Homo sapiens: one gene and its partners. The protein of the gene in region 3 interacts with the protein of the main gene of each other region in a pairwise test. Each region holds a gene or a part of one and is shown on either strand. Other genes may lie near its edges. The genes, in order: TRIO, ABI2, DISC1, UBASH3A, OLFM1, BRD1 and HNRNPC.

Evidence for each region.
Region 1: the proteins of DISC1 (region 3) and TRIO interact in binary tests that used the Homo sapiens proteins (3 or more experiments, as listed by UniProt).
Region 2: the proteins of DISC1 (region 3) and ABI2 interact in binary tests that used the Homo sapiens proteins (3 or more experiments, as listed by UniProt).
Region 4: the proteins of DISC1 (region 3) and UBASH3A interact in binary tests that used the Homo sapiens proteins (3 or more experiments, as listed by UniProt).
Region 5: the proteins of DISC1 (region 3) and OLFM1 interact in binary tests that used the Homo sapiens proteins (3 or more experiments, as listed by UniProt).
Region 6: the proteins of DISC1 (region 3) and BRD1 interact in binary tests that used the Homo sapiens proteins (3 or more experiments, as listed by UniProt).
Region 7: the proteins of DISC1 (region 3) and HNRNPC interact in binary tests that used the Homo sapiens proteins (3 or more experiments, as listed by UniProt).

What each region holds. Positions count from the first base shown.
Region 1 is NC_000005.10:14,506,842-14,510,341, reverse strand, and holds the end of TRIO (triple functional domain protein), read right to left. Parts: intron 3,221-3,500; coding exon 3,082-3,220; intron 2,463-3,081; coding exon 1,920-2,462; 3' UTR 138-1,919; downstream 1-137. UniProt on the Homo sapiens protein: Guanine nucleotide exchange factor (GEF) for RHOA and RAC1 GTPases. Involved in coordinating actin remodeling, which is necessary for cell migration and growth. Plays a key role in the regulation of neurite outgrowth and lamellipodia formation.
Region 2 is NC_000002.12:203,334,677-203,338,916, forward strand, and holds part of ABI2 (abl interactor 2), read left to right. Parts: intron 1-4,240. UniProt on the Homo sapiens protein: Regulator of actin cytoskeleton dynamics underlying cell motility and adhesion. Functions as a component of the WAVE complex, which activates actin nucleating machinery Arp2/3 to drive lamellipodia formation.
Region 3 is NC_000001.11:232,007,259-232,011,498, reverse strand, and holds part of DISC1 (disrupted in schizophrenia 1 protein), read right to left. Parts: intron 2,715-4,240; coding exon 2,450-2,714; coding exon of another isoform or gene 2,345-2,449; exon of another isoform or gene 1,845-2,344; intron 1-1,844. UniProt on the Homo sapiens protein: Involved in the regulation of multiple aspects of embryonic and adult neurogenesis. Required for neural progenitor proliferation in the ventrical/subventrical zone during embryonic brain development and in the adult dentate gyrus of the hippocampus.
Region 4 is NC_000021.9:42,430,662-42,434,901, forward strand, and holds part of UBASH3A (ubiquitin-associated and SH3 domain-containing protein A), read left to right. Parts: intron 1-1,441; coding exon 1,442-1,541; intron 1,542-4,170; coding exon 4,171-4,240. UniProt on the Homo sapiens protein: Interferes with CBL-mediated down-regulation and degradation of receptor-type tyrosine kinases. Promotes accumulation of activated target receptors, such as T-cell receptors, EGFR and PDGFRB, on the cell surface.
Region 5 is NC_000009.12:135,104,292-135,108,531, reverse strand, and holds part of OLFM1 (noelin isoform 4 precursor), read right to left. Parts: intron 1,784-4,240; coding exon 1,677-1,783; intron 1-1,676. UniProt on the Homo sapiens protein: Contributes to the regulation of axonal growth in the embryonic and adult central nervous system by inhibiting interactions between RTN4R and LINGO1. Inhibits RTN4R-mediated axon growth cone collapse.
Region 6 is NC_000022.11:49,800,139-49,804,378, forward strand, and holds part of BRD1 (bromodomain-containing protein 1), read right to left. Parts: intron 4,223-4,240; coding exon 4,066-4,222; intron 1-4,065. UniProt on the Homo sapiens protein: Scaffold subunit of various histone acetyltransferase (HAT) complexes, such as the MOZ/MORF and HBO1 complexes, that acts as a regulator of hematopoiesis.
Region 7 is NC_000014.9:21,223,991-21,228,230, forward strand, and holds part of HNRNPC (heterogeneous nuclear ribonucleoproteins C1/C2), read right to left. Parts: intron 1-4,240. UniProt on the Homo sapiens protein: Binds pre-mRNA and nucleates the assembly of 40S hnRNP particles. Interacts with poly-U tracts in the 3'-UTR or 5'-UTR of mRNA and modulates the stability and the level of translation of bound mRNA molecules. Single HNRNPC tetramers bind 230-240 nucleotides.

The DNA of each region.
Region 1 (3,500 bases), on a different chromosome or scaffold from region 3:
GTGTGTACAGAGGGTTCTCAATCCAGTACATTCTGCCACCTCCCGCCCACGAGAAGTCTCTGCATCAGTCTCTCCCTCAGCCATCTGTCTTTCTGATTCAACAGTGACCAATTTAAATAAAAAGCCTAACACAAAAATCAGGCAAATATGTTTAATTTTTTAAAATAACTGATGGCAAAATAAAATATTTACATCACATCATACTGTGTAAACATGTAAGGTCTCTGTACAAAGAAATATACATGCAAAATAATGTAAAAATTTAACTGAAATAATAAAAGAAACAATACACAAATAAAAATTATGAGGTTACGAATACACATCCAGTTTCGAATCCAATTTCTTTTAAAAAGTTTCTGTACAATTTTACAAGAAGAAACAAACAAAAACCCAACAAAAGAATAAATAAAATACACTGGAAGCTGCAAAGCTTAACTACGCCAGTTTATGGCTCAAGACCCAGGTGTCTGGCTGGCTTGGGAAGCGGGCTGGTCTCTTTTGTAGTGCAGTTCACACGAGAAAGATAAAAAGACATCCAGAAAACTTCGAGGGTGCCCAGAAACCCAGCCTCCTTGAGTTGAAAGGACTCCCCACACCAGTGCGAATGCTGCCACAGTGACTCGGGCATTGGGTACCAGCCGCGGGGCGGCCAGTGCTTAATCGGCTTTTATTTCTTACCAAAAGCTCAAAACCCAGCCAATTTTTATACAGAAAGTTCAACGTCAAAAAGTCTAAAAAGTAGTAAATGTCCAGACTGATTTTGGGAAAAAAAATAATACTTTGGCATTCTGAATAATAGCATAATAAATTTTAAAACATTACCCTATTATCCAGTTTTATATTCAGAGTATGAAATCACTTTTACAGTCCTCAAAACCAACAAATTTCACGAAAAGTCTCTTTGAACCGATGGCACAGGGCTACGACCCTACCCACCCACCCGCCAACCCCAACACACACACAAAACCATAAAGCTCACCATACGAAGTATGTGCTTTTTCTATATATTTATTACAGGTACAACAGAGGTCTTCATAAATAGTTGCATAAAATGTTAAAGCCACAACATTGCACATGATATGAAGTAAAACCAAAAAACCCCCAATGAGTGCATTTACAGTATTTTCATCTGACTGTGTACTGCTCCACAATCTGATTGACGGCTTGGGGCAGGAACAGGGGGAGGGGCAGTGGGGCAGGACCCAACCTGATGTCTTCATGTGATGGGAAGACCCTCGGACCCCCAGAGGAAGCCCCAGGTGGTGGGTGGGGGGTGGGTAGGGGAGGCAGGTGGGAAAATGACAGACCGAAGGCAGGAACAGTCTTATATACAAGTAAGGCCTACATTTCATCAGAGCAAAACGATTCATTCTATTTTATGCAAAAGTTTGAGGTTGAATGCACGTTTCAGAAGCCACGTCGGGCGTGAGATGCACACAGACGAGGCGCCTGGAAGCTCAGAGCCGAGTGGTCTCTGAGTCCTAGACAAGGCCATGGGAGTGGCCGCCACCTAGGTGCGTCTTCCCCAGAGACGCACAGTATCTTTGTTCATTAACACCAGTGGTTGAACATAGGCATTTTGTTTCCTTGAATAAATCTTGAAAACGTTAAATTTGCAAAATTCTATTCATGTTTGTTTAAAAAAGTTATCTTTTTATTTTTTTGCAGAAACCTGAATAAAATACTGTGATACAGCAATGCGACCTCTGCCTTGGGCAGAGTGTAAGTGACGGTCCTCCACCCCAGCGCAGCTTGCAGCTCTGTGTCCAAGCACTGCTGAGCACAGCTCACTTGGAATGCAATTTCACACGATGAACATACCGGCAGCTGATCAGTTATGTTTGCTTGTTTTCTCTTGAAAATTCAGATTAACAGCTGATTGGCAGGTGAAAGAGAATGAGAAAGAACTTCTGGATAGGTCAAACTCTAGGCAGAAGCCTGCTCTGCAGAAAGTTTTTAATGCTACGGATAGGTCGAACATCATTCTGGTGTTTGCGCCGCTCAATGAAGGAAGTCAGTCTGGACGTGTCGAGGACGCCCGTGCTTCTGCCGTTGCCGGCCTGCAGCCACTGCTCCTGGAGGGCCAGCGCAGCCGAGGGACGCTTGGCGGGGTCCTCCTGCAGGAGGAAGCACACGAACTCCTTGGCCTTCTGGCTCACTCCTTTAAAGTAGTCATCTGGGAAGCTAAAGTCTAAGCGGCAAATGTTCAGGCAGGTCTCTTCCACACTGTCATCCAGGAAGGGGGACACGCCACTAAGAAGTACGTATGTGAGCACTCCAACACTCCACGTATCCGAGGTCAGGGAGACAGGGTTCCCGAGGATGATTTCAGGGGCTGCGAATTCAGGGTTCCCCAGTAACTGGTGGATGTAGTAGGTCGTGTTGAGCTGAACAGCATCTCCAAAGTCAGCCAGTTTGATGGTTGGCTTGGCTAAACTCTCATCCACCAGGATATTCTCAGGCTGGAAATCAGAATACAACTGTCATTTTCAGACCATCCAATCTTAAGCTTACTCGTGATGATGGGCGGGACTCTATGGTGAGGTGGAAGGAATCTAGGATGTCAACTAGGACAAGCCATGCATGTGCAAAGCAGGCCGGACCACTCAGCTGGCAGCCGAGGGTGAGGAGGAAGAGATGACACAGCGGAGCTGGGACCCAGATCCACACAGGGCAGCTCTCTTTGGAGATCTAAGTGCCAAGTAGCCTAATGAAACCAGGCTGCTTTATGAAGCTGGGTGTTCATTTTCCCTCCCAGCACCAAGGGGAATGCTCTCTTTCCCGCCTAAGCTACCACTGCACCCGCCACACCCACCGGGCAAAACTCATGGGGACTTTCTGAAAGTCGTGGAAGGCTGGGAGGGCTCCGGCGTTTTACCCAGTGTGCTCCTGACCGTGTGCATCACTGAACGCAAACGCTTAGAGAGAGAGATTAGCAATCAGTGTCTGCGCTGCCCCACCCACCCTTTTTGTCCCTAGTCACTTGGGGGCTCCTGGCCTGGCTTCAGAGGGGGCTCTGTGTCCCGCATGGCCAAGCCGGTGTGCTCAGACCCCCCTTCACCTGCCCGGGGCCTCACCAACCTTTAGGTCCAGGTGTGCTATCCTGCAGTTGTGCAGGTACCGGACAGCTTCCAGAACCTCCCCCAGGTGCGCCCTGATCTTCCCTTCAGTGAGGCTTCCCCATCGCACCACGCAGTCCAGGAGGCGACCCTGGTCAGCCCTAAAGAGGCAGGAGCGGGTGACTGTTATGATGCGATTTGCTTTGAAGACCTCTTTGGGCTAGTAAGAAGTAAACATGTCGGACCTGTCACCTGTTATGAATGTGTCATCGGGATCTCAGGGCCGTGCCTCTAAGGCGTGACTAGACAAGGAGGGGGATTTTGTAAAGCTCTGTTGGGAAGATGCGAGTGGGGTACAGGGTGTCTCCATCTTAAGAGGGAAGCCGGTGGTAGAGCGGCACAGTCAAGGGTCCAAACCCGCCTGTTGCGGGGGATGGCGTG
Region 2 (4,240 bases), on a different chromosome or scaffold from region 3:
TTTTTTGAGACAGAGTCTCTGTCGCCCAGGCTGGAGTACAGTGGTGCGATCTCAGCTTACTGCAACCTCTGCCTCCTGGGTTCAAGCAATTCTCCTGTCTCAGCTTCCTGAGTAGCTGGGATTACAGGTGCACGCCACCACGCCTGGCTAATTTTTGTATTTTTAGTAGAGACGGGGTTTCACCGTATTGGCCAGGCTGGTCTCGAGATCCTGACCTTAGGTGATCCGCCCGCCTCGGCCTCCCAAAGTGCTGGGATTACAGCGTAAGCCACCGTGCCTGGCCTAGTTGTAGACTTTTGATAGCTTATGGTTGAATTTTTATGGGATTGGTTAATAGATTGGATTCATGAGGTAGCATGTAGGGCAACACATTCTATTTTGGATTTTTCATTTACTTTGTGTTTCCTTCCAGATACGAAGCTCCTAGAAGATGGAGTCATTTCTTAAAAATTTCTATATTTTCCCATTAGCCGTAGGATGTTCTCCATATACTAGCCACTCATTAAATAGTTGCTGAATGTAAGAAATACAGACTTGAATATGCAAGAGCCTATGCACTGAATTATTTTTATTTTATTACTTTATTTTATTTTATTTTTTGAGACAGGGTCTCACTCTGTCACTCAGGCTGGAGTGTAGTAGCACGATTATGGGTCACTGCAGCTTGCACTCCCAAGCTCAAACAGTCTTCACACTTCAGCTCCCAAAGTAGCTGGGACTACAGGCTTGTGCCACCATGCCCAGCTAATTTTTTTTGTTGTTGTTGTTAGAAATGGGATCTCACTATGTTGCTCCGGCTGGTCTTGGAACACCTGGGCTCAAGCAATTCTCCTGCCTTGGCTTCCCAAAGTGCTGGGATTACACCTGTCAGCCGCCATGCCTGGCCTTGAATTATTTTATAAGTAGGATATAATTACATGTAAATTTACCTTGCAAGTTTTTTCCTATTTGATTTTTTGGTGACATTTATGTTCTGTAAAGTTTTGCAGTACTTTTCATATTTGCATAATTCATGCAAGGAACATAGTTTTGCTTTTTTCTTCTTAAGTAATATACTTTGTAGAAAATTTGGATGAGGTAACAGCTTTGTTTTGAATCATTTACAACATGAATTTTTTCTCATTTGATTTTTAAAGTCAGGTTTATTGAGTTTTAATACATATATGGTACAAGTCACCCTTTTTAGGTGTAAAGGTTTATGAATTACAATAAACTTACATAGTCATGTAACCACCACAATGTAAAATTTTCCTTGTACCCTCTGTAGTCAGTCCTGTCCCTCCACTACTAGCCTTTGGTAAACACTGATATATTTTCTGTCCCTCTAGTTTTTGCCTTTTCCAGAATGCCATATAAGGGGCATTATGTAGTATATAGCCTTTTGTGTTTGACTTCTTGGTACTAGAAGTCCTAATACATTTGAAAATCATCAGTGTTATTGTGTTTTGTCAGTACTTTGTTCCTTCTTATTACTGAGTAATATTCTAGAGTATGAAAGAATCATAATTTGTTCATCCATTCACCAACTGATGGATTTCTGGATTGTTTCTAGTTTTAGGCAGTGGTGAATATGGCTGTAAACATTTGTATACAGGTGTTGGTGCAACCTAAGTCTTCACTCTTTTGGGTAAATTTAAGGGAAAAGATCAACTGTTGTACCCTGGTAACAGTGGATGTATCCACATAGGCTGCATAGGCCAGTGCTTGAACTGCATCTGATCTGAATCTTGGCCGAGCACTTTGTGATCCTCTTGGAATATAAGATTATGGAAGTTTGCGAGGACCTTATGTGAAGCCCTTTCTCAATCTCTTCATCTGCCGAGGAGGCTGTACGTGATAACAGTGCCTCATCACCTCCTAGTTCCCATGAGATGAGGCTCTCTATTGTACCCTTTTAGGTAGTAGCTGCAGGCTGTAAGACTTTAGTTGCAGCATGGCATTGGCTCCTCCGCAACAGAGTGTCATATCTATGTTGTAGTCACCTGGCTCCTTTTGTTTTAGTATTGCTTTACACAAGGGCTGTATCTTTTACTACTATTCCTTCTGCCCTCCATGTAAATGGTAGGCTTTCTGAACCTAACAAGCAGTTGGGCAGGTCTATCACATTGCCTTCTCTTTGCCTTGACAATAAATATCTAATAGTGGGATTATTACCGTATGGTAAATGTGTGTTTAGTTTTATACAAATTGCCAAACTCTTTTCCAAAAACGATGGTACCGTTTTGCGTTCCCACCAGCAAAGATCCAGTTGTTCTTCATCTTTGTCAGCATTTGGTTTTGTCAGGTTTTAAAATTTTAGCTATTCTCTTGTTAGTGATGTCTCAAAGGCCATATATGACAAGCCTACAACTAACATCATACTCAACCATGAAAAGTTGAAACCTTTTCCTCTAAGATCAGGAATAAGACAGTGGTGCCCAGTGTCACTAGTTCTATTTAATCAAGTACTGCAAAGTACTAGAAGTCCTAGCCAGCCAGTTAGGAAAGAAAAATAAACAAAAGGCATCAAAATTGGAAGAAGTTAAATTGTCTCTGTTTGCAAATGACATGATTCCTTATGTATACAAAACCCTAAAGACTCCACCAAAAGACTGTTAGAATTAATTAACGAATTTAGTAAAGTTGTAGGAGACAAGATCAACATACAAAAATCTGTTGTGTTTCTACATATTAACTACAAACGATCTGAAAAATTAAGAAAACATTTCCATTTATAACAGCAGAAAGAATAGAATACTTAGGAATAAATGTAATCAAGGAGGTGAAAGGTCTGTACACTAAAAACTATAAGACATTTATGAAAGTAATTGAAGAACATGCAAATAAATGGGAAGATATCCCGTGCTCATGAATTGGTAGATTTGATATTGTTAACATGTCCATACTACACAAAGCCATCTACAGATTTAATGCAATCTCTATCAATATTCCAATGGTATTTTTCACAAAAATAGAAAAACCCTAAAATTCATAGGAAACCACAAAATACTTTGAATAGCCAAAGCAGTTTTGAATAAGAACAAAGTTGGAGGTATCATACTTCCTGATTTCAAACTATATTACAAAGCTATAGGCCTGGCATGGTGGTTCATGCTTGTTATCCCAGCAGTTTGGGAGGCCTAGGTAGCCAGATCACCTGAGGTCAGGAGTTCAAGACCAGCCTGGCCAGCGTGGAGAAACCTCATCTCTACTAAAAATACAAAAATTATAGGGCATGCTGGCACACGCCTGTAGTCCCAGCTACTCAGGAGGCTGAGTTGGGAGAATCGCTTGAACCCAGGAAGTGGAGGTTGCAGTGAGCTGAGATCATGCCACTGCACTCCATCCTGGGCAACAGAGCGAGACTCTGTCTCAAAAAAAGCTATAGTAATCAAAACAGTGTGTTACTGGCATAAAAGACATGTAGACTAATGGAACAGAATGGAGCCCGGAAATGTAGCCACATCTGTGCAGTCAACTAAGCTTTGATAAAGGCACCAGGTACACAATGGGGAAAGGATAATTCAGTAAATGGTATTGGGAAAACTATATCCACATGCAAAAGAATGAAATTTGATTGTTATATCACACATACAAATTAGCTAGAAATGGATTAAAGACTTAAATGTAAGATCTGAAATTATAAAACTCTTTGGTATGGGTCAGATGTTTGTTCCCTTCAAATCTCTTGTTGAAATGTGATTCCCAGTGTTGGAGGTGGGTCTTGGTGGGAGATAATTGGATTATGGGGGCAGATCCCTCATGAATGATGTAGCACCATCCCTTTAGTGATAAGTGAGTTCTTGCTTGGTTCACGTGAGAACTGGTTGTTTAAAATTAGTCTGGGAGCCCCCCCACCATGTGACATGCTGGCTCCACTTCTGCCATGATTACACCTCACCAGAAGTACGTGCCAGCACTGTGCTTTGTGTAAAGCCTGCAGAACCAAGAGCCGATTAAACCTCTTTTCTTTATAAATTACCCAGCCTCAGGTATTCCTTCATACGATCATAAGAATGGACTGATACACTCCTAGAAGAAAACATAGGGGAAAAAGCTCCTTGATTCTGGTCTTGACAATGGTTTTTATAAATATGACACCAAAAGCACAGGCAACAAAAGCAAGAAAAGATGAGAGTGACTACATCAAACTAAAAGGCTTCTGCACAGCAAAGGACACAAAATGAAAAGGCAATTTATGGAATGGGAGAAAATGTGCAAACCATACATCTATCTGATAAGGGGTTTATATCTGTGTGTG
Region 3 (4,240 bases):
GCTGCCCTCTCTGTGAAAATAAATCCAGCACTGCGATACAGGAACAGGGAAATGATACTGAAAGCCAGCAAAAGCTGTAAGGTCCCCTCTAAAGCACCCACTCACCCCCAAGAAAGCAACAAATAAATGTAGGACATCCTCAGCATTTCAATTGGTGGAGAGGATCTGGGAGGCTTTCTGGGGGACCCCTGGAGCACCCAAACAGCAGCCACCACAGGACCTAGGATAAGGCTCCACTCTTTTTTCATCCTTGACCCCAAGCTTCCTATTTTTCAACAAATATAGCTCTGTGTTCTTATAGCCAGATAGTGAAATTGACAGGTGCTTATAATGCTATGCAGGAAAACGAATCCTCCTATGCCTGGGAAAGTCTGTCCCCAGAGAACCTGGAGGGCTCAGGGCTCAGTGGGCAGGGCAGAGAAGGAGGGAGAAAGGGAGGGAGAGAGTGATGGGGTTCAGAATACACTACCCCAAAATATGGCACCTTGGCATTTGAGGAACAGCAGAAGCAGGAAAGTCTCTCTGACCTTCTGCAGCCATTCTTTCCTGAAGCAGGCCATAAATAATTATCTGACCTTCCTCTAAAGTAGATTATAACACCCTCATCTTTAAAGTGTACAACCTATACCCAAAGGAAAGGAGTATCCTTATCTCTGAAGACACAGGGATGCAGCGAAGAATCCGAGCAAACAGGCCTTGCTAAGCTCCCCCCAGTTTATTGCCATTAAATCATACTCCTTTTGTCCAATTATACTTCTCCACATCTGTCTGCTATTCTTCAAACTTAAGCATAAAAATACACTGGTTTCTGTTGCTTTGGGTCTTCATTTTTGCAGGCTCCTGTGTCATGTAAATTTTATATTAAGCACATTTGTACATTTTTCTCTTGTTACTCTGTCTGTATAGGTGCCTCAGCTGAGAACCTTTAGATGGGTAAAGGAAAGATATTCATTTTTCTCCGCTACAGGAGAAAGGGATCTCTGCTGAATCAGTCCTGGCCTCCAGCAGAATCAATGACCCAGGGACTCCATCACATACCTGGCATGGCTTCTGACTGCCCCACACCGAGCTCCTCCTGGTAGCTCACTTTGGAAAGCCAGACACACCTTCAAAGACTCATTCCCAGAGCCTGCAGTTTCTTCCACCCAGGAATAAACCCTTGCTTAGGTGGCACTTCCCTCCACCCCAGAATATTCTTTCAAGCCATCCACTTGCAGCAGGTGGTAACTTTTCAACACCTCTACCCAGAGCATTGGAGACCAGGCTTTGCTGGAGGATTCCACCTGTAGCACCTGGGTTAACAAACGAGTTCAGATGTCTATAAATTAACGTAGAGCCTGTGACTGGGCCAGCAAGGATGCAGAGTGACAGTGGTTGCTTTCTTATAAGACCATGGAATCCAAATATAGGATCAAGGATCGATTTTCTAAGCAGTCCAGAGGCAGTGACTAAGAACACAAATGTCTGCTCTCTGAAGGCCATGGTCCTGCAGATGGGATGTGAGACTGGCAGGGCTGGCCTGGGGAGGTGGCAATTTCCCCACCCACCAGTGGTGAGTCCTGGCAAAGACCCAGGGAGGAAGCACAGCTAACATCTAACATCAACCATGAGACTTGAAAGCCATGTGTCAAGTTCCTCCAGCCTCTCCATGCTATTTCCTTTCCACACTCACAACACCTGTGAACCTGGGCCAACAAAGAGCTCTGAAGACTCAGGTCATGGCACTGAAATCAGGAAAAACTTCCTAGGGCCTTTTTATGGAAAAGACTCTTGTTAGGGTGGGAGGAGGAAAGTGAGGAGTGGAAGGGGAAGGGAGAGAGGAAAGAGGGGAGAGAAAAAGAAAGTTAAATAAAACCATATTTTAATTTGTAATACATATATCTCAGGCCAAACTTTAGTTGTGTTTATGAAAGAAGAACATTATAAACATTCATTATGATCTGGTTTTGGTAAAAACAATTAATGGGATAAATACATATATTTGAATGTTTCATTCAAATAAATAATAATATATTGTAATATATAGATTCTAAATATATAAACATCATATATGACATACAATACATAATGTATAGTATATATGTTAAATATCATGTATGGCATATATAATCTATAGTGAATATAATAACTATATTATATATGACATATATAATGTATGCTATATATGGTAATTCTATATTAGACTGCATATTCTAATTCTAGCCACTAAATTAGAATGAAAATGGAACTAAATATGCCAAAAGTTGGGTTTTTTTGCTCTTCTATATTTCAAACTTCTACAAAAATTCTACTTTATTTTGTAATCATATTCAAGAGTTATTGAAACTTTTAAAAGTTTATATGCTCAATGGGAAGCCTTCCCAATATTTATTGTTCCCATTTGGAGCATGGTCCCAAAGCACCCCTTAGAATAAGGGTCCCCTCTGGAGGCCATGTGAAAAGGACAGACCTCTTTCTGTTCACCTCCAGCACAGTGCAGAGAGGGGATGAGGTGAGTCTTCCATTCTTCCAATACCTTCAAAGGGGTCTTCCTTTTATCCTCGGAGTGGAGCCTGGGGGGAATAGGAGGAGCAGCTCCCTCTAAGTCATCCATCTGCCTCTCATCTTCTACAGACAGGCTTCCCCTGGCTTCCTGGAGCTGTAGGCTCTGGATAAGCAATCGACAAGCTTCCAAGTCAGCTTCCCACACTTTCCCAAGCAGTGGACACTTGCAGCTGAGACAGAGAGGAAACAAAGGCATAAAAATGAACTCAGTGATGTTTCATCATACCAAGTCGATAGCTTGTCTACCTGGCTAAAAGTCAGCTGGTCATCTTATACTTGATGACTTAATTTCACAGTGATAAATTATTTCAACTAGAAGATTCATCAGAGGGACCAAATTTGCACACCATCAAGTCACCATGAAATGTGCTGGTCCTTAGCTGCTTGGTCTGCAAAGGCATCCAAAATCCTATGTATTTTTCCAGACTCAGCAGCCCAATACAACACAGTTTCTGCTCATATATGTGTTACCAGCCCTACTGACTTGCTTTGAATCCTCAGACCTGTCCAACTCTTCCAGGCTAGATCAACTCTCTCTGTCCATTCTCCATCAACACACATATAACCAGGCCTTCATCTGACTAAATCATATTATCTTCAGAACTCGGCTTAAATAACCTTTTTGGGAGAAACATTCCCTGCCTTCCAACTGGAAAATATGATGGATCTCTTAGCATTTTTTACTTTTATTTCAGAGTATTTATGACAATTCTAATTATTTATGTGATTATTGTTTTCTTTTCCCTGAGGGCAGAGCTTGTAACTATGTTGTTCTCCACTCTATTGCTAGACTCTATTGTATTAGTCTGTTTTCATTCTGCTAAAAAGAACTGCCCAAGACTCGTTAATTTACAAAGGAAAGAGGTTTAATTGACTCACAGTTCAGTGTGGCTGGGGAGGCCTCAAGAAACTGACAATCATGGCAGAAGGTGAAGGGGAAGCAAGGCACCTTCTTCACATGGTGGCAGGAAGGAGAAGTGCAGAACGCAGGGGGAAAGAGCCCTTTATAAAGCCACCAGATCTCATGAGAACTCACTATCCTGGGAACAGCACTGGGGAAACTGCCCCCATGATTCAATTACCTACACCTGGTCTCTCCCTTAACATTTGGGGATTATGGGGATTACAATTCAAGATGAAATTTGGGTGGGGACACAAAGCCTAACCATATCATTTCACCCCAGCCCCTCTCAAATCTCAAGTCCCTTTCAAATTTCAAAACCAATCATGCTTTTCCAACAGTACCCCAAAGTTTTAATCCATTCCAGCATTAGCCCAAAATTCCAAGTCCAAAATCTAATCTGAGACAAAGTAAGTCTCTTCCACCTAGGAGCCTGTAAAATCAAAAGCAAGTTAGTTACTTCCAAGATACATTAGGGGTACAGGCATTGGATAAATGCTCCATCCCAAATGGGAGAAACTGGCCAAAACAAAGGGGCTACAGGCCCCACGCAACTCCAAATTCCAGCTGGGCAGTCAAATCTTAAAGATCTGAAATGATCTCCTTTGACTCCATGTCTCAGAACCAGGTCATGCTGATGCAAGAGATGGGTTCCTATGGTCTTGGACAGCTCCACCCCTATGGCTTTGCAGGGTACAGTCCCCCTCCTGGCTGCTTTCACGGGCTAGCACTGAGTGTCTGCAGCTTTTCCAGGTGCATGGTGCAAGCTATCAGTGGATCTACCATTCTGGGGTC
Region 4 (4,240 bases), on a different chromosome or scaffold from region 3:
TCGCTCTGCCCCCACCATCTCTGTTAATGACTCATCTTTCCATGTTCATCCCTTGGCCCAGGGAGACCTGCAGCTCCCTAAAGCAGGGATGCTGTGGACTGCAGCTTCATGGACCAGCATGTGACATGCTCCCCCCTGCGGTGCCATGTCACAGGGAGGTTGAGGCATGAGTCCTGGGTGCCAGAGGGCAGCACCACTGGGCCTGTGTTGCTGCAGGGTTCCCCACCTCTTGCTCTGAAATGGACCCCCCTGGATAGCCTGGGCCTGGCTCTGGGGCTGGGAATGTAGGTGAAGGGCCGATGTCAGCTGGCACATTAGTGCCCTCCAGGGAAGCAGCCGAGCCTGGTGTCTCCCTCCAGGGTCCTGGTGCAGGGCTTATGCTCCACGCAGCTGTCCTGGTGGCCTCTAGCTGGCTCGGCCCCTAGCACTCTGCTCTCTGGTCCCAGGGGGGGCATCCTCAGCTCTCATTCACTCTCTTCATCTCATTTGCTGTGGGTTCCTCTCAAGGCCAGTCCCTCAACTTGATCAGCCCTGCACAGCATGGGGAGAAGGGTGGCCTAGCCCCTGAGGACAGAGCCCCCCACAACACCATCCCACACAGTGGAGGCCCCTCCCAAAGGGTAGCCAGCCTCGCTGCCCCAAGCATGACCTTTGGGCTACTTCCCCAAAGCACAGGCTCCCCAGAAAGAGGGCGGGCGTGAGCCCTGTAACTGCAAGGCTCCAAGGCCATCCTGCGGCTGCCTGAGGCTGGGGAGGAAGGTGCCAGAGAGCTGCTGTCCCTGGCTCGAAGCTGCTGGCCACCGCCAAGGCCAGTCTCATGCCGAGAAGAAGTAAATAAACTATAAAGTACTGTTTTCCTTTAGCATTCAGCCAAACAGAGAATGACCAGCTATGGGAAAACAGCAAGGGGATGGATGAGGGCTTCTCCCCTTGGTGCTCAGAAGCAGAATTCATACCTGGGAGCCATAAAAGGACGGCCCCTCAACAGGTCAACACCAGGGCAGTCCTGGAGGGTTTCTCAGAAGAAGTGTGCCAGCAAGAGAGGAGACTAGATATATAGATAGGTAATCTATACTATAACAATACATATTATAATATAGATAGGGATAATGTCCTAAGACGTCTCTATGGGAATGATAAGGACTTAGAAAAGACAGAAAAGTAGAAAAACGGATGTGTCATGATAGGGGCCAATCCTGTCTCTTTTCATTTTCTTGATGTTAGAATGCCCAGAAAATAAAACATTGGAAGAAATTGAAGAGATTGTCAATTTCATGTCCTCTTTCATTCTAATGATTTGGGCAAAATGGGCTGAGCTATTGACTAACGAAGGAAAAGATTCCCTCGCAGTTGCTGGGTGACTGGGAGAGCTGCCATTGGTGCAAGTCCAGTGAGTTGGATGTTAAACTGCATGTGCCTTGCTTCCTGCCCCACCCCCCAGGCTACCGTTGCAAGGAAGAGCGTGCTGGTGGTTCGCCACGGGGAGAGAGTGGATCAGATCTTCGGGAAGGCATGGCTGCAGCAATGCTCCACTCCTGATGGTAGGTCACACTCAGGCGGGTCTACGGACAGAAACACTGTAGATCTAACCAATGAGATCTCCTTCTTAATGACCTTACATGGCACCAGATCCCCTGAGGCACCATTCTGTAGAATGACCATGTGTAGACTGTATGTGTGGAAAACGTGCCTGCTACATCTTCCTCCAGGGGTGTTCCATGTATGCATTTGAGTGTCTGTGTTGGAACCTCTCCAACCTAATCTTAACTGATGTAATTTTTGGCTATGCTGCTTAACAGATGGACGTATTCTTGAACATGCCTCTTGCACACCCCAGCTTTTCTCCTCTGAATGCCAGGAAGTAAGAATAGTGCTTATAAATACACATACCCACAAGCCAACCTCTGTATTGATGATCAATGTCCACATCAATGCTAATCTCCTAATAGGAAGCCTGTAGTGTCACAATTTCTAAGCCATGACCCATTACATAAATTAAGGCATTGAATGTAGTGACAAAATCAATTCACAGTTGCTAGGTTAGCCGAACCCTTTTGGGATCCCCCTCCAGAAGCCCAGCAGACCCAAGAAAGTGGTAAATGAGTAGGGAAAACCATTGGCAGATGACAATCACACACCAGAAAAGATTCTGAGCAGATAACATCATGATCAAGCATATTTCCAAGAACTCACAGAGCTAATAATATGGTCACCTCTATAAAACAAGATCAAGTAAAGATACAAGAGCTTAAAGCAACAATAAGACAATAGGTGGCTATCAGGATGCATTAACAAACATATAAGAAACTTTTTTTCAATAAAACAGTTTTTTTAGCTATTGAATTACTGAAGCTATAGATTGAACTGACACACCTTGTCCATGGTGGGGAGAACCAATACAAAACAATCAACACCAAAAATAGTTATTGAACTTCATAGAAAAAGAAAAAATATTTGGTCATCTGGACAAAAGATCAAGTCACTTATAAGGGAAAATATTTTAAAGGCACTGGAAATCCCCATCTGAAAGGAAACTCCTGGTGGATCTTTTCCCAAGGTAGAGAGGCCCTTGATAAAGTGAAGAATTACATCTAGTTTGTCTGAATTTTGTATATTGCAGGGTTTAATAAATCACAAGGAGGTATAGCCACGTCCTCCCCCAAGGTGACCAACCTCAGGGAACACAAGGGAGATTTGGGGGGCTCTACTGGCCTCTCCCCAGCTCAGCTCACTTTTGGCCCAGGCACCCACATCCTCACAGGGCCCCTCACCTCACCCCATATTCCACACAGACTCTGCTCCCATCAGGACCTGACCTTGCCCCACATCCTTGTCCTCTCCTGAGCTCTGCCCTCTGCCCCCAGAGTGATCACAGCTGAAGTGTCAATGACAGCAAAATACCTAAATGGAGTGTCTTGACATTTTAGAGGGGGATCACAGATGCCTTTGAGAACACAATGAAATTGATGGACTTTCTCTCTGATTTTAAAACTGCCTTTCCCAAGAGCTAATGTTGGCATTGAATAAACACCTCTAAAATGCAGTGTTCAAACAAGAGTCTCTGCCCATGGAAATCCCAGGGAGGGAGTCTTCAGAAAACTCCTATATGGAAACTAAAATGCAGGCATGAAAAATTGCCCCCCGCTGACCCCTGCTGCCCCCCACTGCCCCCTGACTCTGGGTTTGTGCAAGGCTGTGGGCCAGGATGAAGGGGCCTGGCATATTCTGGGGTGCAAAGGGCAGGGCCTGCTATGTATGGCAGAGCAGGTCTCAGGAAGGTCAGTGTGGCTGCTGGAACCTCCTAATAACCAGGAGGCTTGGGGTCCCTTTGGAGAATGTGAAGGCAAACCAGAGTGCACTGGAGGGAGCAGTGTGTCGTGGTGTCCTGTGTGAGGATAATCAGTCATCCTGACGTGGTGACATGAGACCAGTGCCCCGACTCGTTGACCACTCCCTCTTGAGTCAGACTCTGGGCTATGGGTGTTACCTCACTGACACCTCGCAATCGCTACTCTTTCCCTGTTTTTTACTGATAAGAGAGATGAAGTCATTTATTTCTGGCTGCACAGTGAGGAGATGGTGATGCCAGGATTTGCTACCAGACTGTCAGATCTTAGAACTCAAGGTCAAACTCCACGTGAACCCTGGCACCGGGCAGCCTCTGGTGGGAGACAGTCCCAGTGAGCCCACTTCCAGCCTGGCTTCAAGCAATTGACTAAAGAATGCACAACACAGGCATCTCCAGCTCAAGCACTCTGTCCCCTGAGCAAGAAGGATACGTTTAAAGCTAGGGGGATGGATCATTGATGCCAACTTCAGATTCTTACCGAGTTACACTAAACTAGTCATAGAGACACTTTATCAGGTTCTTCATCAGGAAAATGTAAGAGTGAATCTTCATGGGGCATTTTGGGAGGACAAAGAGGGTTGCATAGTTCCTGGGGCTGAAACCTAAGTTGTCTGCATTTGAGAAAATGTTGTGTGCACAGCTGAGCAGCACTTTCTTCTCAAATTGAAGCCACGTTGCAGAGAATGTTCAGAAACAACACAGTTGACAATAATTTCAATAATAACATTGCTGTTAGAGTGGGTCTTGGTCTTGGGAGTTTTGTGGAACAAATCTGTACTAACTTGATGAAACTGAACGTCTGATGCTTATTTATACTTCAGGGAAATACTACAGGCCAGACCTGAATTTCCCCTGCAGTCTGCCAAGACGGAGTCGTGGGATCAAAGACTT
Region 5 (4,240 bases), on a different chromosome or scaffold from region 3:
CCTCCGGAGTCGCTGGGATTACAGGTGCACGCCACCACGCCTGGCTAATTTTTGCATTTTTAGAGAGATGGGGTTTCACCTTGTTGGCCAGGATGGTCTCAAACTCCTGACTTCAGGTGATCCGCCCGCCTCAGCCTCCCAAAGTGCTGGGATTACAGGTGTGAGCCACTGTGCCCGGGCCTGCTTTCTAAGTGCCTGCCAGCATCACCTTGTTTTCTTCTGTATTATGATCATTACAAAAACATCTGTGGCAGGAGCAAGTTCCTAACTCTGAACATAAGTGGGGTTTTCCAGGTGGGATGTGGAATAAAAGAGTGGTCAGAGTCTTCACAGCTAATTAAATTGTTAGAAAACTTCCAAGCCTCAGCTGTCACAATTTAGAAAACAGGACAGAAAAACCTCCCTGACAAACACCCAACACCAATTGTATCCCGGCTCTGCAGTCTGGCCAGCCCTTCCAGATGGGGGCGGGGGCCACTCCCATGCGAGGCTGGGGGATCAAGACACATGCAACAGGCTCTAGCAAGTCTGCCAGTCCCCCTCCCCTCCCCAGCCATCTTCCTGGAAGGAAGGAGTGTGCCAGAGGCCGTACCGCCCATGTTTTAAATATAAGAGATTTCGTGGAAATGGTGGCAATGGTGAAGGAGGGAGGCAAAGAGATCAGAAATCAGAGGGGAGAGAGCTGGGTCCATCCCTTCCTTCAAACCCGCTCCAGATAAAGCTTAGAGGATCTCACATTTCAAAGGGCCTTTCTCAGTCGGCCCAGGGCAGAGCTGGGTTGTTTGTTTTTAAGTGTTTATTTTCTAAGTGTCCTGCAAACCCCTGAAGGAAGGGGTTGCTGGGTGAGAAATGCCCACTCTGGCAGCCAGAGGTCAGTTTGCAAATCAAGGGACAGCGAAGCCCTGACAGCTTCCCTCCCCCATCGAGAGCCTTCAGAGGGTGCTCACTTTGGAGGGAGTCTACAAGCCCATGCTGCCTGTATACAGGGGTCTGGGGCCCAGGGGCCGAGCGAGGCCGGGCCTCACCATCAGTCGGGCAGCCACCCTCACCTCCCCATTTTTCAAAGGGGCTCGAACATAAAACCCAGCCCCCCAGATAAAGGCAAATATGATGCCTGTTTCTCTCTCCTCTTCTGAGGTTTCACCCAGCGGGGAAAAGCCTGGGAAAAAAGAACATGGCCTCTTTCCTAAATCAAAAGGAACATGAGTCTCCATCAGCCATGAAAGGAATGGCAAATGAAATACAAATGAGATGTCATTAAAACAAGAAAGGCCTAATGAATTCTCTTCCTGAAGCAGATGCAAGGACCGGAAAAGTCAGGGCTGGGTTTCGGCTCCAGAGAAATGGACTTGGGGCACCAGCCCAGCCCAGCCCAGCCCAGCCCAGCCCAGCCCAGCCCACCGGGCCGGGGAGGAGGCCTTGAAGGGGTCTACAGCCATGTCATGGGATACCATCAACCTCATGTCACTCCCTGGCCCATGATCTACAGCTCTGGATTAGCATAGAGGCCTGGGTCCCTCCCGAAAGTCTTCCAGGAACAAACGCCCCCAGGCACCAAGCTGCCCAGTCCATAGGCCCTGGAGGGTGGGCGTGGCTTGTACCCATGTCTGGGGCCCACCAGGTGTCCGAGAGCGCCCTTGCCCAAATGACCCCCTATGACATAAGGGGACACTCACCCGGTTATCGCCTTCAGGGGCGAGAGGGTCTGTCATCCAGGATCCGAACCTCGAGCCGGAGGTCTTGACAGTCACGGGGTCACTGATGCCCGTCAACTTCCCGCAAGCTGGAAAAGAGCACGCAGGTCAGGAGAGGGAGGGCGGGGGCCCCGGCCCGCGGTGATGACCCTGACCTCGACTGCCCAGAGCACACGTGCCATGTGGCGGCTTCTCCTCTTGCCCTCGGGGTCTGGGGTACTGTGGAAAGCTGCTCACGCCCTTGTTTTCACAGACAACTCCCCCACTCTCGGAAAAGCCACCTCCTCCCCAAAACAGAGCAGCTGTGGCCAGGATAGCAGGGAAGAGCCGTGGGCAGACGGCCGCCCTCCCAGGCTTCACGCCTCCTCAGCCTGCTGGACCCATGGCCTGGGGATGGGGGTGCTGGAGCAGCACCTCTAGGAGAGGGGGTCAGCTTTGCCAAGACTCAATTTTCTTCTCTTGGAGATGGGAACGCAGCGGCTCCACCCCCAAGGGCATTAGAGGTCATGCCCTGACAGCCCAGCCCGCGTGGGGCACAGTCAGGCCCAGTGTGAGACACTGCATCCAGGCAGGCCCTGTCCCACGATGGAGCAGCAGCACCACCAGCCGCCCCGGAACTGACCCGGGACAAAGGCCACAGCTGCCTTCCCGCAGGAAGAGCCTGCGCGCTTCTCCCACAGGCGTGAGCCGGTTGCTTCTGCCAGTGGGAGGAGCCCAAGCTGGAGCGCACCAGGGCGGATGGGATCCTGGATGTGATCTCAGCAGCCCTCCCGTCTCACAGAGGACCATGGAGGTGAGGAGGGACACACCCGGGCCACCCGGTGATTTGGACTGAGGCTGGAGCCCCCCACACCCCCGAGGGCTCAGGGCGGCTTCCACACCCACTGCACAGGAACAGAACTCCTCCTGCCCGGAGGCCGGTGTGTCTGCGCAGCCACGCAGCTCTTCCAGAATGCACGAGCCTCGGCCGCCCTCTGAAGGGCCAAACGCTCCTGATTCTAACAGGGACCCTGGATGGGAAGTGGGTGGCTTTCCTGGGGAGGGTAGAGGAAGGGCCCCTCCACCACAAGTCCCCGCACCCTGCCCTGTCCCTCCCGGCCAAGCCCGCCTGTGACCTCCTAGGTCTGCGTGGCACCCTCGGTGGGCTTGCACGAGCACACGAGTTCAGAGGCCATCCACGTGTGGGGGAAGACTGCGGGTGAGTGCGCCCGGACCTCGGCTCAGCCAGGATAATCCTGTCGGCAAGCAGGGTGGGGCAGGCTCCAGGCTGGCCCCCGGGAGGACGCGGCCTGGCCACTCCCATGCTCAGCGCGGGTCTCAGGGTGCCTCCCACTCTCTCCCAACTGGAAGTGGCCTGTTACTGGCATCACACAAGACCAGAAAGAGGAACGCTCCCGGCCCTGCCGGCATGGAGGCGTCTCCGATTCTGTGGGTTGGTGGGAGAGCGTGCATCCGGGCACCAGGGCTTTCAGAGGGACGAGGAGCCCACTGCCCACAGAAAAAGACTGGGTTTGCCCCCAAATTCCCATCGAGTCGGGCTGCATTGCTCCAAGGCCCCGGCAACCTGGCTCCCGGGCTGCCGCCTCTGCCCCGATTGGAAGAAGAAATGTCACAGCCCTTCCCTCCCTTCCTCCTCCGTGCGTAGTTCCCCATTCCTACTTTCAGGAGGAATTATGTGCTTTCCCAAGTAAATATTGTCCCCTCATGGCTGGAGGCTTCCTGGCAGTGGGGCCGGGTGAGAGGCTGCCAGGGTCTTCTCGGCCGTGGTCCACACGGGCTCTGGGCCAGGCCATGCTCCCCATCTGTGGGAGGAGAAGCAGCAGAAGAAAGGGATGGAGAGGAGATGGCCACAGCTGACCGGCGTCTATGGGGACGAGAAGTAAGAAGATGTGGGGGGTCTGAGAAGTCTCACAAGAGACTCCTCTTCCAGGAGAGCCCGGCCCAGATTTTCACCCCAGTGCAACTCGCTGGCGGAGAGGTGGAGCTCAGGGCGGCTTCACTAAGGCCCTGGAGGAGCAGGAGGCAGGAGGTGGGAGGGAGGAGCCATGGCTGGGCTCACCCTCCGGCTGCTGGGGGGCCCTGGGCTTCGGGGGAGACAGCAGCTCCCTCTGCACTGGGTGGGCGCTGGGAGAAGCCCTTCACAGCCCCTCTCCAGCCCTCCCTGCCATCCAGAGGCTGGTGTCCCCTAAGACAGTGCCTTGGCCCTGTGAACATCCCGTGAGGACTTTCCACGCCGTGGTTCTGTTAGTTGTCCGGAAGGAGAAGCCTAGAGGAGTGGCGGCCCCATGCTGGGTTTCCATCCAGCAGCGCACACGGGCTCTGGCCACTTCAGCCTCCTCAGTCAACACGCCGGGCCTTCCGTGACGCTGGCCCACACTAACGCCCGGAACCACACCCGCAGCAGACTCATCCCGGTCGCATGACCTACCGGAAGGAGACCAGGTGTCTGCCCTCCACCTTGCAGGCAGCCGGCAGAGGCCAGAGGCAGCAAGTCAGTGCTGGGCTCCTCTCCGCCGCCTGGCCAGAGCCCCGCCCTGCTGGTTCAC
Region 6 (4,240 bases), on a different chromosome or scaffold from region 3:
GTCATAGCTTTTCAAAGGACCGAGGGTGTGAAGGCAAAGACTGCTGGACTACAAGATGCAAGGACCCCGGACTCCAAACTGCTCAGAAAAGGAGGCTCAAGGAGGGAGGCCGAGCCCCGCACCCCCACCCCCAAGGCCAGGCCTCTCCATGGCGAGGCAGAGCGTTGCTGCGCTGATGTCCCCTGAAGTGAGGATCTCTGGGTTTTCCTCAATGCTGCTGAACACCCTCAGGCAGGAAATCGGGGCTAAGAGTAACAAGATCCACATCAACTCAAGCAAAGGCAGGAAAATGTGGGCTCCAAAAACCAAGCTCCCCGGAGCATCTGAGTATTGCCTGTCCCTCAGCTTGCAATCGACACTTCTGAAAACCTCGGCCAAAAGGACATTTGGCCTGGGAATCTGTTACGAAGCGGAAGAAATCTCCTCATCACCAGGAAGCCCTTTATCACGCACTGGCTGCTAAGCAAACTTACTAGTCTGCTCCCCAACCTGGTTTAACAAACGCCATCGGCAGTGGCAGGGGCCCCGTTGACAGCACCTGGGCCCAAGGTCCCATGACACATGCAGCCTCATCCACTCAGAAGGATCAAGGTTCCTTACTCGGCTCTCAAGGGCTCGATATTTCCCATGTAAAAATCAACAGTGGGAGGCTCCACGAGAAAGGACAGAAGTGAAGAAGCACTCAGGCATCCCCACTGCCGGGAAGAAGCTGAGCGCCTCCGCGTCCATTCCAGACACATGGGGGAGACACAGGGCAGGGCTAGGCGACGGTCAGGTTAAAATCGCCTCTGCTGGGAGGACAGGCCAGCTCCTGGGGTGAGGGCCCACAGTGTTACAGAGTGGCCGACCCCAGGCCTCCTGGCAACAGCACCCAGCTCCTGCCACTGGGCCCAATGCCGCCAGCAGGTGCGTGGGACTGGCAGAGGCCACACACGCAGCACAGCAAGGACGATGTGGGCAGCAGCGCCCAGCATGCCACAGGACAGACACTGGGAAAGCTGCAGGATGCGCTCCCAGGACAGGAAGGGTGGGCCACGGGAGCAGGAGACAGTGGGACGCCACCAGCATACACACAAATCGCTGCTCACCCTTTATAAAGCTAAGCTGCCGCCCCCGTTCTCCCTGCGGCCTTCAACGGCCACACACACCAGAACAAAAACCAGGGCCTATATGCGCAGCCAGCACAGACCCGCCATCGCTGCAGCACCCTCGGCGCCTGCTGGCCTCTCAAGAGACCCCGTCCAGTTCATCCACCTGCCCCCACCACAGGGTCAGGCTGGGGCAGGTACACAGAGACACAGAGGAATCAAATGCATCAGGTACTTCCAAAGCTTCAAAACCATGAAACCACACCAAGCCGTGGCCATCCCTGGCCAGGAGAAGGCAGAAGCACAGTCTCTCCCAATAGCCCGTTCACACAGAGGCAGGTTTCCAGGCTCTCCACGCCGACTGCTCTGCTGCGGCTCAAGTCCAGGCAGCTCCTTCTGCTCCTTCCCAGGTGACTTCGAGAAGCTGCCCCCTCTGCCAGAAGAGCTGCTCTGGCCGGGCTGTGGGGATGTTCTCTCCTTACAAACGTATTCTGCACACAACAGGACGTGAGGCCTAACAGGCAGCGATGAAGCAGAGGGGGCCCAGCTGGCAGGTTCCAGCGGGTCACCTCTTCTTTGCAACCCTCCCCCTTCCCTTGCCTGGCTCCACCACGCCCCAGGCCACCCCCAGCTGCCTGGGTCCCCGTGGCCCCTGCCCACTGGCCCACGTGTCCTGCTACTGCAGGGATTCTGGCCCTCGTGTCCCAGCTTATGAGAGTAGAAATGATGATTCCCACCGCTGGACGTCCCGTTTGGCCACATCCATGCCCACTTTCCATGGAATCTGCCCTTCAACAGCTCCTCTGTGACTTACCTGGAGTTCTGTCCAGCCCCGAGATAAGACCCAAGATCTGAACCCTCAACTTCCTCCCAAAAAAGCCTCTCTTCCATTCCCCAACATCGCAGGGGCGGAGACCAATGCCTCCACTCTCTTCCTTTCCCCAACATCGCGGGGGCCGAGACCAATGCCTCCACTCTCTTCCTTTCCCCAACATCGCGGGGGCCGAGACCAATGCCTCCACTCTCTTCCTTTCCCCAACATCGCGGGGGCCGAGACCAATGCCTCCACTCTCTTCCATTCCCCAACATCGCGGGGGCCGAGACCAATGCCTCCACTCTCTTCCTTTCCCCAACATCGCGGGGGCCGAGACCAATGCCTCCACTCTCTTCCTTTCCCCAACATCGCGGGGGCCGAGACCAATGCCTCCACTCTCTTCCTTTCCCCAACATCGCGGGGGCCGAGACCAATGCCTCCACTCTCTTCCATTCCCCAACATCGCAGGGGCCGAGACCAATGCCTCCACTCTCTTCCTTTCCCCAACATCGCGGGGGCCGAGACCAATGCCTCCACTCTCTTCCTTTCCCCAACATCGCGGGGGCCGAGACCAATGCCTCCACTCTCTTCCTTTCCCCAACATCGCGGGGGCCGAGACCAATGCCTCCACTCTCTTCCTTTCCCCAACATCGCGGGGGCCGAGACCAATGCCTCCAGCCCCCAGAGCTTCCCGCCGCTCAGCCACTTCCTGACTCTGGCCTCTTAAGAGCCCCCCAAACCGTGCTGTCCTTTCCAGGAGCCCTGGAGGCTACGAGGTGAGGACAGAGGAGAGATGGAAAGCCAAGTCACATCATGGAACGGAAGATGCGGTTAACTCATTCAACAGCCAAAAGACATTCACTGAAGCCTCAACTCTGTGGACACGTGAGGATCTCACTTGGAGAGGGGCTGGCTCACAGACCTGCCCGGGGAGCCCCAAGTTCCATGGACAGACACACAGTGGGGCAACCCAGGTGGACGGCACGGGAGACCTGGAATATTCCACAGCCAAGACGCACCAAGGCCGTCAGAAAACTTTGGACCCCACCACACCAAATCAGACCCACAAACCACCACCTGCCAGACCAGAGCACCAGACTCTGTAGTTCCCTGGAGCACAAGGCAGCCACGGCAGGTGACTGAACAGGGCTCACGCTGCAGAGGCAGAGTCTGCGAGGCAGAGACAGCACCGGCCACCGCACCACCGCACGGGGACCCAACCGTGAACCCTGTAGACTCAAGCTTCCTGTGAGCAAGTCACCACCTCACAGCAGAGCAGGATGGTTTCGCTTCGTGCCCAGGATGGCAGTGAAAAGCACCATGAGGAAATTCCAAGAGGCACTCAGGCCACGCGACGCCAGCAGCAGACAGCTCTTCCAAAAGACCAGCGGCTCCTCACTAGGCAGCGTGGGCAGAGGGCGCTGGCCGCAGGTCCTGGGCCGTGTGCAGAGCTGCTTGTGTTTTCAATTACTTTTGTGCATCTCACAGAAGCTACTTCACTCTGTAAACCCATTTTTTCAGAACTGTTTCACAGTATCAGATGAGTCTATAAACTCAAACCTACTATCAAAATGTAAGAGTTTGGGTTTGTTCTTTTAAAAAGGAAAAGTCCTGCTCCTTCCCTCCCACTCTCTCAGCTCTCTCGAGCCCTCCCCACCCCACCACAGTCCCAGCTAAACCAACCTTCAGAGCAAGGCCCTCGAAATAAACCACTCCTCACATATTTCCAAAACCCACCCTCCAGGCCCAGCACACAGACCCCCACCCACATGGCCCGGGTGTGCTCACCGGGTCCCACTCCTGCTGTCCCCAGCCCGGACGCTCATGCAGCCACAGCATAACACATCCCTGAGCATCCCCAGTCCCCAGAGCTGGCCACTGCCCATCAGCGTGTGTGCGGGCAGGGCAGGGCGGGGGAGCGCAACTCAAAACGGAAGAAACACCCAGTGACAGGCATGGATGAGAATCACCCCCCGAGTCGCAGATCCAGAGCCCAGTGCACCCGACTCCTCCTACAGCTCCAGGGCTGGACGAGACGGAGGCTTCCCAACGGGGAGCCTGAGCCCAGGGGGCAGCACCGTGACCAGCCTGAACCAGGTGCCCTCTCCCTGGAGGGTGGGGGTGAGAGACGCAGAAAGGCTGTGGGGGCCACGAGCCACGTACCTGCTGTGAGCTTCGCTGAGACTGCAGGCTGGACTGCAGCCGCCGCAGCAGGGGGGCCCCGTTCCTGGACAGCCGCTTGAGCAGCCAGTAGCTGTGGGCTCGCTCCACAAACTGCTTCTTCCGCTGAATGGCCACCTGATTCGCAATCCTATTTAACCTAAAACACAAACACTCA
Region 7 (4,240 bases), on a different chromosome or scaffold from region 3:
TCCTGCTCTGTGAAACACATGCCTTTCAATGCAGAATGTCCCCAGTTTTCAAACTTCAAATAACCTAAGTATTTTGGCACTCTCTCCCTTCATACATATATATAAACAAACCCATCTCTCAGGTACAGTGTTACTCAAAAACATCTGAAAAATAGAAAAGGAGGTCAAAGTGTCTGCTAATCTAAACTCAGTAAGGTGAAGGTTCTCCTTCAACCCATATTGTTAATCCAAAGCCTCAGGCTTTGTGTGCCCAGAACAAAATTAGGGATATTAACTATTAATAGTTGAAGAAATGATGGTTTGACAGTTCTGTCTTGAATTTCAATGGTTTCATTTCAACTAATTTTCTCTCTCTACCAAGATACATTCCTAGAAAAGTCAGGTAGAATAAAACCAGCAGCAAAATTGCTTGTCTCCTTGAAATTCTGACAGCACAAACTCTGTGAAACCCCCCTTCATGTAACCATTAATGGCATAATCTATCATCTAGTCACGAAGACAAAATCTCAGCTTTTGACTATTATTTTCCTACAAGCACCTACTTTCATACCTTTAGTCCAACCAATCACATCAAGACCAATCTACTTCAGAAATTCTCCCAACCTCCTCTCCATTCCAACATTTACAATGTTTACCATTTAACACATCTTTTTTCCTCTAGCCACAGGCCTGTTTCTAAAATACCATCTATAGGACACAATCCCAGAACATGTAATACAAAGCCCTTTACAACTAACATTCTTTACAATTTACTTTACAGCTGGCTGCTCCTCAAACACATCAAGGCCCCTCACAACTCAATCTTTGTTACATGTGTCATCTTTGACCTGTGAGTTCTTGAAGATTTGTCTATTTCTAATGCACTGACATATTAATATATTTAGCCATGGAGTAATAACAGCACTCTGAAAACCTCTAAGAATTTCATACTCGTTACTTATATACTGTATTACTAGTCATGCACCACATACAAAATGTGCTAAGTTTAAAAAGTCCTCAGAAAGACCATTGAACTAAACCAGTCTTTTTGAACCAGGTTTCTTGCTCACCAAGTCTCCGCTGTCATAATAAAGCCTGTTATCAAACCTGCCATTTATTGGCAGTTTCTATTTCGTGTTGCCCAAAGTTCTCCAAATAAGAATTAAAGAGGCCAGGAACGATGGCTCACATCTGTAATCCCAGCACTTTGGGAGGGCGAGGTGGGCAGATCACCTGAGGTCAGGAGTTTGAGACCAGTCTGGCCAACATGGTGAAACCCCGTCTCTACTAACAATACAAAAAAAAAAAAATTAGCCACGCATGGTGGCAGGCACCTGTAACCCCAGCTAATTGGGAGGCCGATGATGCACAAGAATTACTTGAACCTGGGAGGTGGAGGTTGCAGTGAGCCGAGATCGAGCCACTGCACTCCAGCCTGGGCAATAGAGCAAGACTCTGTCTCAAAAAAAGGAAAAAAAAAAACAGAGAGAGATGAGACGACTCAAGAAAAGAGCTGACAGTAAATCAGTCTCTATGAAGGCTAGCAAGATGTCCCACAATGACTGAGAGTTCTTTTAATTCTAAAAGGTGTCCATCCTCAGGCGTAAGAGTTACCTTTTGAGGCTGGTAGCACCAGACGGGTTTCATCTATGTCTCTAACTGGCAAGTATCCTGATGTAGGTAGGGTCCACGAGATATGACAAAAAAGAATGACTGTCCATAAGACAGTGATGTATCCTTTTTCAATTGTAATGTCGCATCCATTTTCAATCAAAACGTCATTCACATACCATAAAATTCACCATTTAAAAGGGTGCCACTCCGTGGTTTTTATTAGTTCTGCAATATCACCATTATCTAATTTGAGAACAATTTCATGGGTGATCAATTATAAGGGAAAGTGGGGTTCCAATTTATTACAATCTGAAGAAAATATATCTAGTTTATATCTAGATATAGTTTTAGTATGAAAACACTGCAGTATTTGTGGCACAAATCAGAAAACACATATAGATCAAGACTTTTATGAGAATTTTTTAAAGAATTATAAGAATAGTGCCAGGTTGGGCCAGGTGCAGTGGCTCATACCTGTAATCCCAGCACTTTGGGAGGCCAAGGTGGATGGATCATGAAGTCAGGTGAGGAGTTTGAGACCAGTCTGGCCAACATACTGAAACCCCATGTCTACTAAAAATACAAAAAATCAGCTGGGTGTGGTGGTGTGCACCTGTAATCCTAGCTACTCAGGAGGCTGAGGCAGGAGAATCTCGAGAACCTGGGAGGCGGAGGTTGCAGTGAACCGAGATCTGCACCACTGCACTCCAGCCCGGGAGACAGCACGAGACTCGTTTCCAAAAGAAAAAAAAAAAAAAAAAAGAAAGAAAGAATAGTACCAGGGTAGCTGTTGACGAACATCAATTTCATGTATATGCCAGCCTACCTAAGGACTTAAAGATCTATTTTTAGAGTACTTCCCAATCTCGCTTAATTCAACAACTACAGCTTTGAATACTTGTGCATTCCCAACATTGTGATAAAAATTCACTTTTATTACAACACCTTTCGCAAAACAAAACCAGCGCCTTCAAATGAATATTAAAAAGAGGGCCAGGCGTAGTGGTTCACACATGTCATCTCAGCACTTTGCGTGGCCAAGGCAGGGAGATCCCTTGAGCCCAGGCGGGTGGACCACCTGAGGTCAAGAGGTCAAAACCGGCCTGGCCAACGTGGACAAACACTGTCTCTACTGAAAATACAAAAATTAGTTGTGTGTGGTGGTGCACACCTGTAATCCCAGCTACCTGGGAGACTGAAGCAGGAGAGTCGCCTGAACCCAGGAGGCAGAGGTTGCAGTAAGCCAAGACCAACCCACTGCACTCCAGCCTGAGTGCCAGAAAAGACTCCATCTCAAAAAAAAAAAAAAAAAGGGGGGGGGGGGACAGTGATTTTTACTCCGATTTACATATGAAGACCCAGAGCTTTCACTCAGAGCCAATTTCCCATCTTCTTTGATTAAACAATTTAACATAGTCAATGAAGTATCGCTGTTACCATTTAAAATAAAAATCTAAACCTTATGATAATGAATCTTCAGAATGACTTCTTAGAAGATATTAATACCATTTTTCTAAGTTGTTATTCCACCAGGTCATACCCAACCTATTTCCCAGGTCCAAATTGACCTAACATTTTCCAAACCAGCAAAAAACTCCTGTATCTGCCCCTCTCCCCACTAAACAAACACTCCTCCTCCTTTCACCTTCATTAACATCTATCATGTAAGACACACACTCAATTCCTCAATTCTCCAACCCAACTTGAGTAAGTTCCCATCATGTGGACACCTCCTAAAATTCATTTTCCCAACAAAGATCTCAGTACTCTAAAAGTCAGCTCTTTGCCAGCTATTACCTAGTTGCTCCACTAGTTATCAGTAATCATTATCTACTGGCTGACGTTAGAACAATAGAAGACATTACTTTTCACTGACAATAACATGCAGCAATATATCCGACAGTAACTACTAGTATCGGCTGGTGCAAAAATAATTGCGGTTTTGCTTTTTACCGTTCAAAGAAATGTCAAAAACGGAATTACTTTTGCTCAAACCTAATATATTGTTGTCTATTGAAAATCTGAAGAGGCCACCAATTTCTGTGAAGATATTTCTGCAAACGTGATTTCTTTAGATTTCTCTGCAGTATATATCTCATTGTCTCAACTAATGTTTTCCAAATTCCCTGCTCAAATTTTCAAATTTCCCCATTCACAATGTGCCTTGCCAAGAAAAGACTTTTTAATGAGAACTATTTTCAAGAAGACTGTCACTGTATACTGCTAAAACTTGATACACTCATAAAAAACATCAACTAAGAGTCCATGACATCCCTGAAATTATACCAACAAAAGTGTGAGTTTATTAAACTGGTCTGAATTGAGCCATGACAAAGAAATAGGATAATAATACACAGAAACACAACCACGTCCTTAATCTTTTATTAATGATTCTCAACTCTGACTGGACAAAAGAACACATAGAAAGCACTGAAAAATATACTAGTACTTAAGAAAGTCTGCATAAGACCAGTTGTGTAAGAATCCCTATAGGAGAAGCTGGCATGAGTATATTTTAAATGTGGTCAAGCAATTACCATGTGCAGAAAGGGTTAAAGGGCAGATGCTTCAGACAAACTCACTGGGTTTCAGTGCCTTCAAGACACCTGACCAATAATTAACCCATCTATGCCTAATGTTCCATTAC